3 linked regions of the Homo sapiens genome follow. The protein of the gene in region 3 interacts with the protein of the main gene of each other region in a biochemical or structural test. Each region holds a gene or a part of one and is shown on either strand. Other genes may lie near its edges. The genes, in order: MEOX2, RPS10 and RNF10.

Region 1 (3,738 bases), on a different chromosome or scaffold from region 3:
CTCTGTACACTCCTTTTAAAAAGTTAAGTTCTGGCCGGGCGCGGTGGCTCACACCTGTAATCCCAGCACTTTGAGAGGCCGAGGTGGGCAGATCACTTGAGGTAGGTAGTTCGAGACCAGCCTGGCCAACATGGTGAAACCGCGTCTCTACTAAAAATATAAAAATTAGCGGGCGCCTGTAGTCCCAGCTACTCAGGAGGCTGAGGCAGGAGAATCACTTGAACCCGGACAGCAGAGGTTGCAGTGAGTCAAGATTGCGCCACTGCACTCCAGCCTGGGCAACAGAACAAAACTCGGTCTCAAAAAAAAAAAAAGAGTCCTCATTTTATTCTTTATTTTGCTCAATATGCACTCTTCCTGAAAACAGCTTTTCAATGGAGAAGTAGCAGGAGACCCAAGAGAAGAGGAAGTTAGGAGAGGTCCAAGTAAAAGAGGCTGTGGAATGGAAATCTTAAGGGTGGGAAAGGCAACTTGAGCCTCTTACATAACTTGGCTAGAATTCACCTTACATTTCAGGGAAATTTCATGCCGTTTACAATTCTAAGGACAATGATTATTTTAAATCTTTAGTAATTACTTAGGCAAGTTACATTTCCTATAGCAGTATTTGTAATAAAATGCAAACAGGTAGCATAAAATAGATTATTTTCAGATGGTGCATATGCATTACATAATTGTACATTCATTGATAGATGATAAAAATAATAACTGACACTTTACTAAGCCAGACATTGTTCTAATTGCTTTGTGTATATTAACTCAATTTCCTTTTCAGAAACGATGGTAGAGAAAAGTTAAATTTGTGGCCAAGAGGTGACAATAGTAAGAGACACAGCGGGGGTTTAGCCCTAACTATTGTGTTCTCCCAGATATGCTTGCCTCATTTCTTCTTCGGTTGACTCTTAGGGTTGCATCCACCTAACCCTCCGGGGTTCTGGCTTCGGATAGTGTTTGATCAATGGAAGCAACAAAAGAAGATTGGAGGACATGAAGACAGGTTACTGGATGATATTCGACATGAGCTGCAATCCTCCATCTGAGGTCCCAACTTTTCCAGAAGGCTTCTGTCCTGTTGCGCTCATTGGATTCTGGTAAGAGGTCCCTGCATTTACCCTCTCAGGTTAGGGGTGCTAATATATTCCAACTGTGGACAGACCCTGGGGGATTCATCATTTCCTGTGGTTTCCCTACATTCTACTCACCATCAAATTGCCATCATCAAACTCTCTTCAATTATCCCTTTGAGTGTGACATCTATTTCCTTGTCTAATATGATAATTAAGAAATAGGATAAATCTTTTATGATTTATCAACTAATGGCTAAATATGCAAAAGTGTTGCCACTTACTTATACTTTCCTAAACATCTGGGTATTCTAGAAAATAAATTATACAGCTCTACTTCCAGGAGCAAAGAATAGTTCTGGAGGAAAAATTATTTATAATTCCCTGAATTTTGAGTGTGGACATTCACAAGACTGTAATCTTAGAAACATGGGTGGCAGCAAGCCTCCAAATAGGGATGCCTAAACTCTGACTTTCCTGTCATTTTAATATGTCTCAATCATTTTTACATCTACATTCTGTCTAGTTTAATGCATCCAGATCTGTTTATACTTCAAATAAGAAAAAGAAATTCCCACGTAAGCATAGCCTATAGGTGAGAAAATTTTAATTGTTAAAGGCACTACACATACTAAGACCTCATTTTATCTTTGAATAATATTAAATAAGACATCACTTGATTCCAACCTATGCAGTGAGTGCTAAAGCATTATTTATATGGTTCTTTAAATGTGAAAGTTATTTGCTAAATTGCTGTTGTTCTACAAAACCAAGCTAGTCCCCATTACGTTTCGGATAACACATATTTATTTTTCTGAATAGTTTCCTGTTTGTGTTACCTACCAACATAAATCAATGATTTGCAAAATTTGCTTTGCATTCATTGTTAATTTGATAAGAGGCATGCCCATTTAATCTTTTCAACTAATAAGAATACACCTCAGTTTAGTTTGCTAGTTTTTTGGGTGGCTAAGAATAACCATCCAAATGTTTACTGTGCAGTCCAGACAGTGGACAAGCTACCTCAACAGACTCTGAATATATTTCACTACTGCATTTGCAAATAACTATCACTTTGCAAAAATAAGTTTTCATTTGGGTGTCATTTCTGGCAAAAATTTAAGGCTATATTTTCAAAGAGTAAAATTCTAGGCCTTTAAAATTCTACTGGCATCTGCCAACCTAAGCTGGACCCTCCTCTAGGTTTTGCGGAGCCTGACAGATGATTTCACCTTAGTCATTTTCTTGCCCACAGTCACGTAAGATAACTGCGAATTTGTTTTTTCCTTGTAGCATTATGGGATTCTCTTGAAGTGTGTGAAGAATAATGAGCTAAATAAAGAGGAAAAACAAAAGAAAACAAAAACTGCAGGGACTTTTATAACTATCATTGATTGCCAGCTTAAGCCTGCTGGACTCTTCACAAAACTATATATGCTTCAAGCTTAATATTTAATTTTGTAATTGGAACATTTATAATCATATTATGCATTTAATAAGGATGCTCTAATTCAGATTTACTATTATCAGGAAATTAAATTTGGAGTTACAGTAATGCATGCATATATATGTGTGGGTGTGAGTGTGCATATACCTATATATGTATATACATATATAAAGTAAACGCCTTCTTTTAACGTGTGTTTTAAGTATAGCTTCCATGTCCTAGTTAATTCAGCACCCTCCCTTTTATCCTTTCCTTGCCATTGTCCTCTCTACTAGACTACAATAAAAACAAAAAACTATGAAAGTAAGCAGCTTATAATCATAATTTTAATCAATGTAGCCTATGCAAGCTTTAAGAAACATACGTCTAACATCTTAGAAAGAAAGCTTATGAACACAAACAGCAGAATACTTAAATACATTTGAAACATTCACATTGAATTGATTCTACAAAATTTTGAAGAGCAACAGCTTTTGAATTTAGAGCTATAATCAGTACCCTAAAGTTTTTACCACTGAGTTACTACCTAGTAAAAATATGTTATATTTGCAATAAAAGTACACATTGTAAGGACATAAGAATTGTCATCAAGGTACACAAACATTTTAGAATTATTAAACATTTAAATAAATGGAAATTTTAAAAATAAAATAACAATATTATCATACAAGTTAATGATCCAGTTTATTAATTTCTAATTCTATTGATAAAACAAGGGATTATTTTTGAAAGGGTTTTTCTATCTTTCATACAAACCCTTTCCAAAAATGTATAGATACAGTACGGATTCTACCTGATCATTCTTGTGCATATGGTGATGTAAGAAACCAAAAAAATGTAAATTATTTTCATAACACTGTGAAAACCAATATTTAAAAATACAGTGCACAATTAGTAGTGAGTAACATATATAAATTTAGAAATATTATATTTCTGTACACAAAGTAACATTATAAATGAAAGCTTCAGGAATAATGAGCTACTTATTATTCCGGAAATTATATATCAAAAATTTCAAATATAGAGGAAAATTAAAAACCCACTCATGACCCATGAAAATTAATAACCCATTCGATCATACACTTACCATGTAACTTTCTGTTAATTTGGTAATAAATAATGTCAAGAGATTTTAAATGAAAATACTTATTCTGAAACATAAAAACAACATCTGAGATGAGCACAAATGGATCAATAGATACATTATTGATTATTTTGTATCATAAA
Region 2 (3,058 bases), on a different chromosome or scaffold from region 3:
TTTGAACAGTGGTTTTTGTGCATTGTTTTCTCCCTTGATTCTTGTCAACAAACGCTGAGCCTTGAAGACTTAGATTAGTAACGTTGGCCTAAACACCATTCCTGTGCTTCTTCTCCATAAATTGAAGGATTCCAAGTGCACCATTTCCTTGGTCGTTACCTTTCATCCTCCCTCCCCAGTACTTCTTATAGTTCCTGACAGCAGGCACAAATCACGACTCCAGGCCAACCAGCAATTTTCCCACCATGCTGAGCTGAGGCAGCATGGCTGGTCTAAAGAAGGGACCCAGTTTTCCAACTGCAGCACCATATGGGACACCACTCTGCAGGGAGGCACTGCCTAGAGAAAGCAGGGCACACGCCAAAGCCAAGTACAGCAGCAGCCGGTGTCACCCAGGACAATGACAACTCCCCAAACCAAGCCTGTACTGCCCCATTTACATTCTGACACTTAAACTGTTCCTGTTCAGGCTGCACAATGCAAACAAAATGGACAAAAGATTAAGGTTTTTTGGCTGTAAGTTTATTCAATGCAAAAGAATCCTCTCCAATTTTACTGAGGTGGCTGACCACGTCCACGACCAAATCCGCCTCTCTGTAAGAGAAAGCACATCACATCAGCATGAGCGGCACTCTGGTTTGATCTTTGGAGGTTTTGCTAACTTTCAGGCCTCATTATAACTCCAGAGGCCCCCAAATGTAAACAGCTGGGAGAGAGCTGAGTACAGGCTATAAATCCCAGCACTGCCCCTTACTGGATGTGGGGCCATATCTAACATCTAGGCCCATTTCTTCATTGGTAAAGTGGGAGTATGGCCACCCACCCAGAGTGTGTTCATACATACTCCTATGAAAGCATCCAGCACCAGGATTGGACCGTTTCTACTGTACATGCTTCCTTTTTACAAATGACATTATCTGAGAGCAATCGTGTGCTATGAGGACCTGCCATAGGACAAAAATGATATGCCAGTACTATGCCTGGATTAACTAATCTCACAACTACCTTAGTAGCTGTAATTATCACCTTATTTTATAGATGGAGAAACTGAGGCAGAGGGGAACCTACCTAACATTACATCAACTGAAAAAAGATGGAGGATTTGATTTCATACCATCTTGGTTCTTAAGCCCACCCACCTTCCAGTGTTTAGTTCAATGTCAAGCATTAATGAAACAGAAAATACTAGTAGGCCACATGTACTGATTTCTGAGACTCATTTCAGTAATTTATGTATTTACAAAAGTTTGCATGCTACAACTCAATGTAAAATTTGGAATTTGGAAAAAAGTGGGAGGAGGGAACTGGTTGACAGGACCCACCCATACTATATGACATCCCCACAACTTGCAGAGCAACCAGACTGAGGCCAGAACAAGTGATGGCTCATGGAAAACAAATAGGAAGATACTCACAAACTGGAATTCGGTTGCTGACCCAGCCCCAGCCTCGGCTTTCTTGTCGGCACCAGCTAGAAAGTGAAACATCGATTTAGAATCATCATATGATCTAATCTACTATAGAACAAGGGAAGACAACTCACTGACTCCAATCTTGCAGGAAAAGCCAAGTACCACTCCGTTAAATATAAGCAAATTACACCAGTGGTGGGGAATACCTTCTGAGCCACCTTTGTCTCTCCTGGGGCACCCTTCTCAGCCTTCCTTATGTCACCCTTCAATACTCACAGCCCAAACTATAAATCCTCCCAAAGGATTCCTACTTCCTATCACACTGACTGACTTACCCACTTCACAGCAGCATCTAGATAACAAAGGGAGTGTAATTATGGAAGAACTAACATGTAAAGGGAAGGGCCCACAAAAGCCTTAATTACCACCATGGGAGAAAAGCAGACAAGATGCTGCCCGGTCCTATATCCCAGTCACAGTTCAAATGGAGACGTGTGCAAAATTCACCAGTTTTCTTTTACTTATTTGAGACAGGGTCTTACTCTGTCACCCAGGATGGAGTGCAGTGGTACGATCTCAGCTCACTACAACCTCTGCCTCATGGGCTCAAGCGATCCTCCCACCTCAGGTGGGACTACAGGCAGCTAATTTTTATATTTTTTGTTCGTTTGAGACTGAATTTCGCTCTTGTTGCCCAGGCTAGAGTGCAATGGCGCGATCTCGGCTCACTGCAACCTCCGCCTCCCAGGTTCAAGCGATTCTCCTGCCTCAGCCTCCCGAGTAGCTGGGATTACAGGCATGCGCCACCATGCATGGCTAATTTTTTTGTATTTTTAGTAGAGATGGGGTTTCTTCATGTTGGTTTCTCCAGGCTGGTCTCAAACTCCCAACCTCAAGTGATCCGCCCACCTCGGCCTCCTGAAGTGTTGGGATTACAGGCATGAGCCACCGCACCCAGCCCTAATTTTTATATTTTTTGTAGAGATGGGGTTCTGCCATGTTGCCCGGGCTGGTCTAGAACTCCTGAGCTCAAGTGATCTGCCTGCCTCAGCCTCCCTAAGTGCTGGAATTACGGGTGTGAGCCACTGCACCCAGCCAATTACAAAGACTTAAGAAAAAAAGAATGTAAAATATTTCACTACTCTTTATACTGATTACATGTTAAATTAACACGTTTAGATATTTTTTAAACCGATTTATTTGTATTTATTTACTTATTTTTTTTTTTTGAGACGAAGTCTCACTCTTGTCCCTGAGGCTGGAGTGCAATGATGCAATCTCAGCTCACTGCAACCTTCACCTCCTGGGTTCAAGCGATTCTCCTGCCTCATGCTCCGAGTAGCTGGGACTACATGTGCATACCACCACGCTTGGCTAATTTTTTGTATTTTAAGTAGAGACGGGGTTTCACCATGTTGTCCAGGCTGGTCTCAAACTCCTGACCTCAGGTGATCTGCCCGCCTCGGCCTCCCAAAGTGCTGGGATTACAGGAGTGGGCCACCGCGCCCGGCCCTGATTTATTTGAGTTGGTGCGGGGGGCAGGGTCTCACTCTGTTGCCCAGGCTGGAATGTAGCAACAAGATCATAGCTCACTGTATCTCAAACTCCTGGGCTCAAAACAATCCTCTTGCCTTGGCCTTCCAAGT
Region 3 (3,104 bases):
TAGTAAACCATAAGCTGTTTGTTCCTTAGGAAATGGGTAAAGAACACTGCACAGAAGGCACAAGAGATTCTTACTGAGACCCTCAAATTGGGAATTCCGACTTTCTGGTTAAGTTTTTCTGCCCTTCCTGGGACCCCTAAAAACATCGAGCTGTCGGAGGAAGCAGTGAGTAGTACCCTCCAGTTTTTGTTTTTTAGACAGTTTAGCTCTTGTTGCCCAGGCTGGCGTGCAATGGCACAATATTGGCTCACTGTGACCTGTGCCTCCCAGGTTCAAGCAATTCTGTCTCAGCCTCCCAAGTAGCTGGGATTACAGGCACCCGCCTGGCTAATTTTTGGATTTTTTTTTTTTTAGTAGAGACGGGGTTTCACCATGTTGGCCAGGCTGGTCCTGAACTCTTGACCTCAGTTAATCCCTCACCTTGGCCTCCCAAAGTGCTGGGATTATAGGCGTGAGCCACTGTGCCCGGCCTAGTACCCTCCAGTTTTTTTTGTTTTGTTCGAGATGGAGTTTCGCTCTTGTTGCCCAGGCTGGAGTGCAATGGCGCAAATCTTGGCTTACCGCAACCTCTGCCTCCCAGCTTCAAGTGATTCTCCTGCCTCATCCTCCTGAGTAGCTGGGATTATAGGCATGCACCACCACGCCCGGCTAATTTTTGTATTTTTAGTAAAGACGGGGTTTCTCCATGTTGGTCAGGCTGGTCTCGAACTCCTGACCTCAGGTGATCTGCCCGCCTTGGCCTCCCAAAGTGCTGGGATTACAGGCATGAGACACCGTGCCCAGCCAAGTACCCTCCAGTTTTAAACCACATGGCTACTAAACTTCAGTTACCTAAAGCCATGAAAACTAACTAAACTCTCTCCTGACACCGCTTCAACAGCCCCTCACTACCTTTTAGTCTGCTTTTCCAATAGCTCCTTCATCATTAACTTTCAGATCCAACCACAGGCCAGTAAAATTCCTGCAAGGACAATAAAATCAGAACAATCCTCATGCCCCTGAGGAATTTTCATTCCACTTGGCCAAGGCCAGCTTTGTAACTGCTGAAGGCCACTATGAGCCCCAACTGCAAATATGCCACTTAAAAGGCAGAGAACATTTTATTCCTGGAAAAATATCAAGAGACAAACCCCATGGGGTTCAAGCAGGGATGCCTTGTCCTTAAATCATATATTCCAAAGTGAGGAATGCCTATTACTCAAGATGAGTTTGTGTTGGCAGATGCCGATTTCATTAAATAACCTTTCTTCATTATGTTCCACTTTGGTGAACTTCTCCCTTTGTCTCTAGGAGTTTGGGTCTCCTACGGTTTAGACATTTGACCCTCCCAAGCCTCATGTTAAAATCTGATCCCCAATGCTGGAAGTGGGGACCTAATGGGAGATGTATGGGTCATGGGGGTGGACCCCTCATGAACAGATTAATGCCCTCCCTGGGGGATGGGAGACCTATTCTCGCATTCATTCCTGAAAGAGCTGATGAGTGATGTCTGCCACTGGATCCCAGTGGGAATGGCAGTACATGTGTGTTTGACAACCCTGGGCACTCCAGCCTCTGCCCTTACCACAGAAGGGATCTGAAGTAGCTGGTGTGTCCAGTTTCACAAAGGCTGCTTCAATAGCTTGGCTGAAGGCTATTTTGAAACTGGGCACAGGAACACGGTTGTTTAAAACGGCCTGGCACCTCCTCCCCTCCTTGCTTCCTCTTTAGCCATGTGATCTCTTCACAAGCAGGGACCCCTTCACTTCGTGTACCATGAGTGGAAGCAGCCTGAGGCACTCACCAGATGCCCAGTCCTCCAGCCAGCAGAGTCATGAGCCAAATAAACTTTTTTTTTTTTTTTGATAAATGACTCGGCGTCGGGTAATCTTTTATACCCACACAAATGGACTGAGACAGTATCCAAATAGTTTGACATGTGAATTGTTTTACTCTTAAAAGGTAATCAAAATGTCACCTATGTCTTATTCTTACCAAAATGTTTAAATGTAACCTGAATCCATTCATGAGAAATCAAACAAGTCCAAACTGTAGGATATTCTATAAAACAACTGGCCATGGAAGGGAAAAAAAAGGGGATATGGGCAAAGGAACGGTTATAGATCAAAGGAGACTAAAGAGACTTGACAACTAAATGCAGGGAGTAACAGGATTCTGCCCTGAGTTGAAAATGAAGGACGCTGAGACAAATGTGGAGATATAAATATGCACCATATTAGATATTACTGTGGCAGTGGAATTTCTCTAATGTGATCACTGTGGTTCTATAGGCGAATATCCCACTTTCTTTGGCATGTATCTCCTAAGTACTTAGCGGTAAAGTATCATTCAGGATATCTGCAACTTCTTTTCAACACAGAAAAAAGAGAAAGCAAATATATAACAGCAAAATAGTAACAATTAGTGAATCTAGGTCAAAAGTTTAAGTGTTCATAATACTATTCTTTCAACTCTGTATTTCAAAATAAAGTTCAAAGGAAAAAAGCAATAGCAATAAAGCCTAGTTTAAAAAAAAAAAAAAAAAAAAAGGCCAGGCGCAGTGGTTCATGTCTGTAATCCCAGCACTTTGGGAGGCTGAGGCAGGTGGATCGCCTGAGGTCAAGAGTTCTAGACCAGCCTGGCCAACATGGTAAAACCCTGTCTCTACTAAAAATACAAAAATTAGCCGGGCATGGTGGTAGGCGCCTGTAACCCAACCCCAGCTACCCGGGAGGCTGAGGCAGGAGAATTGCTTGAACCCGGGAGGCGGTGGTTGCAGTGAGCCGAGATCACGCCATTGCACTCCAGCCTTGGGGACAGGAGCAAGACTTCAACTCAAAACAAAACAAAACAAAACAAAACAAGTATTTGGCATAACTCCTGGGAGCCACTTGTTAATCATCTCTAAGTCCAGCAGTTAATTTTCAGGATCCCCCTCTCTTCTCACCTCACCTCCACAATTATTTCATGTTCCTTGACTTCGGAACCCTCCTTACCAAAGCTCAATTCTTGCTTATTTCTCAGTACAAACTGCTGTAATTACATAAGAAAGATCCGTATCAACTGCTCTAAAGAACTGTCAATGGCCGGGCATGGTGGCTCATGCCTGTAATCCCAGCTCTTTG

What was found.
Region 1: the proteins of RNF10 (region 3) and MEOX2 form a complex in vitro, tested with the Homo sapiens proteins (one study listed by BioGRID).
Region 2: of the proteins of RNF10 (region 3) and RPS10, one has a biochemical effect on the other in vitro, tested with the Homo sapiens proteins (one study listed by BioGRID).

The regions. Positions count from the first base shown.
Region 1 is NC_000007.14:15,676,557-15,680,294, forward strand, and holds part of MEOX2 (homeobox protein MOX-2), read right to left. Parts: exon of another isoform or gene 2,358-3,738; intron 1,092-2,357; exon of another isoform or gene 907-1,091; intron 1-906. UniProt on the Homo sapiens protein: Mesodermal transcription factor that plays a key role in somitogenesis and somitogenesis and limb muscle differentiation. Required during limb development for normal appendicular muscle formation and for the normal regulation of myogenic genes.
Region 2 is NC_000006.12:34,416,954-34,420,011, forward strand, and holds the end of RPS10 (small ribosomal subunit protein eS10), read right to left. Parts: intron 1,472-3,058; coding exon 1,416-1,471; intron 595-1,415; coding exon 553-594; 3' UTR 501-552; downstream 1-500. Other genes in the region: RPS10-NUDT3 protein, read right to left, coding at 1,416-1,471. UniProt on the Homo sapiens protein: Component of the 40S ribosomal subunit. The ribosome is a large ribonucleoprotein complex responsible for the synthesis of proteins in the cell.
Region 3 is NC_000012.12:120,572,325-120,575,428, reverse strand, and holds part of RNF10 (E3 ubiquitin-protein ligase RNF10), read right to left. Parts: intron 1-3,104. UniProt on the Homo sapiens protein: E3 ubiquitin-protein ligase that catalyzes monoubiquitination of 40S ribosomal proteins RPS2/us5 and RPS3/us3 in response to ribosome stalling.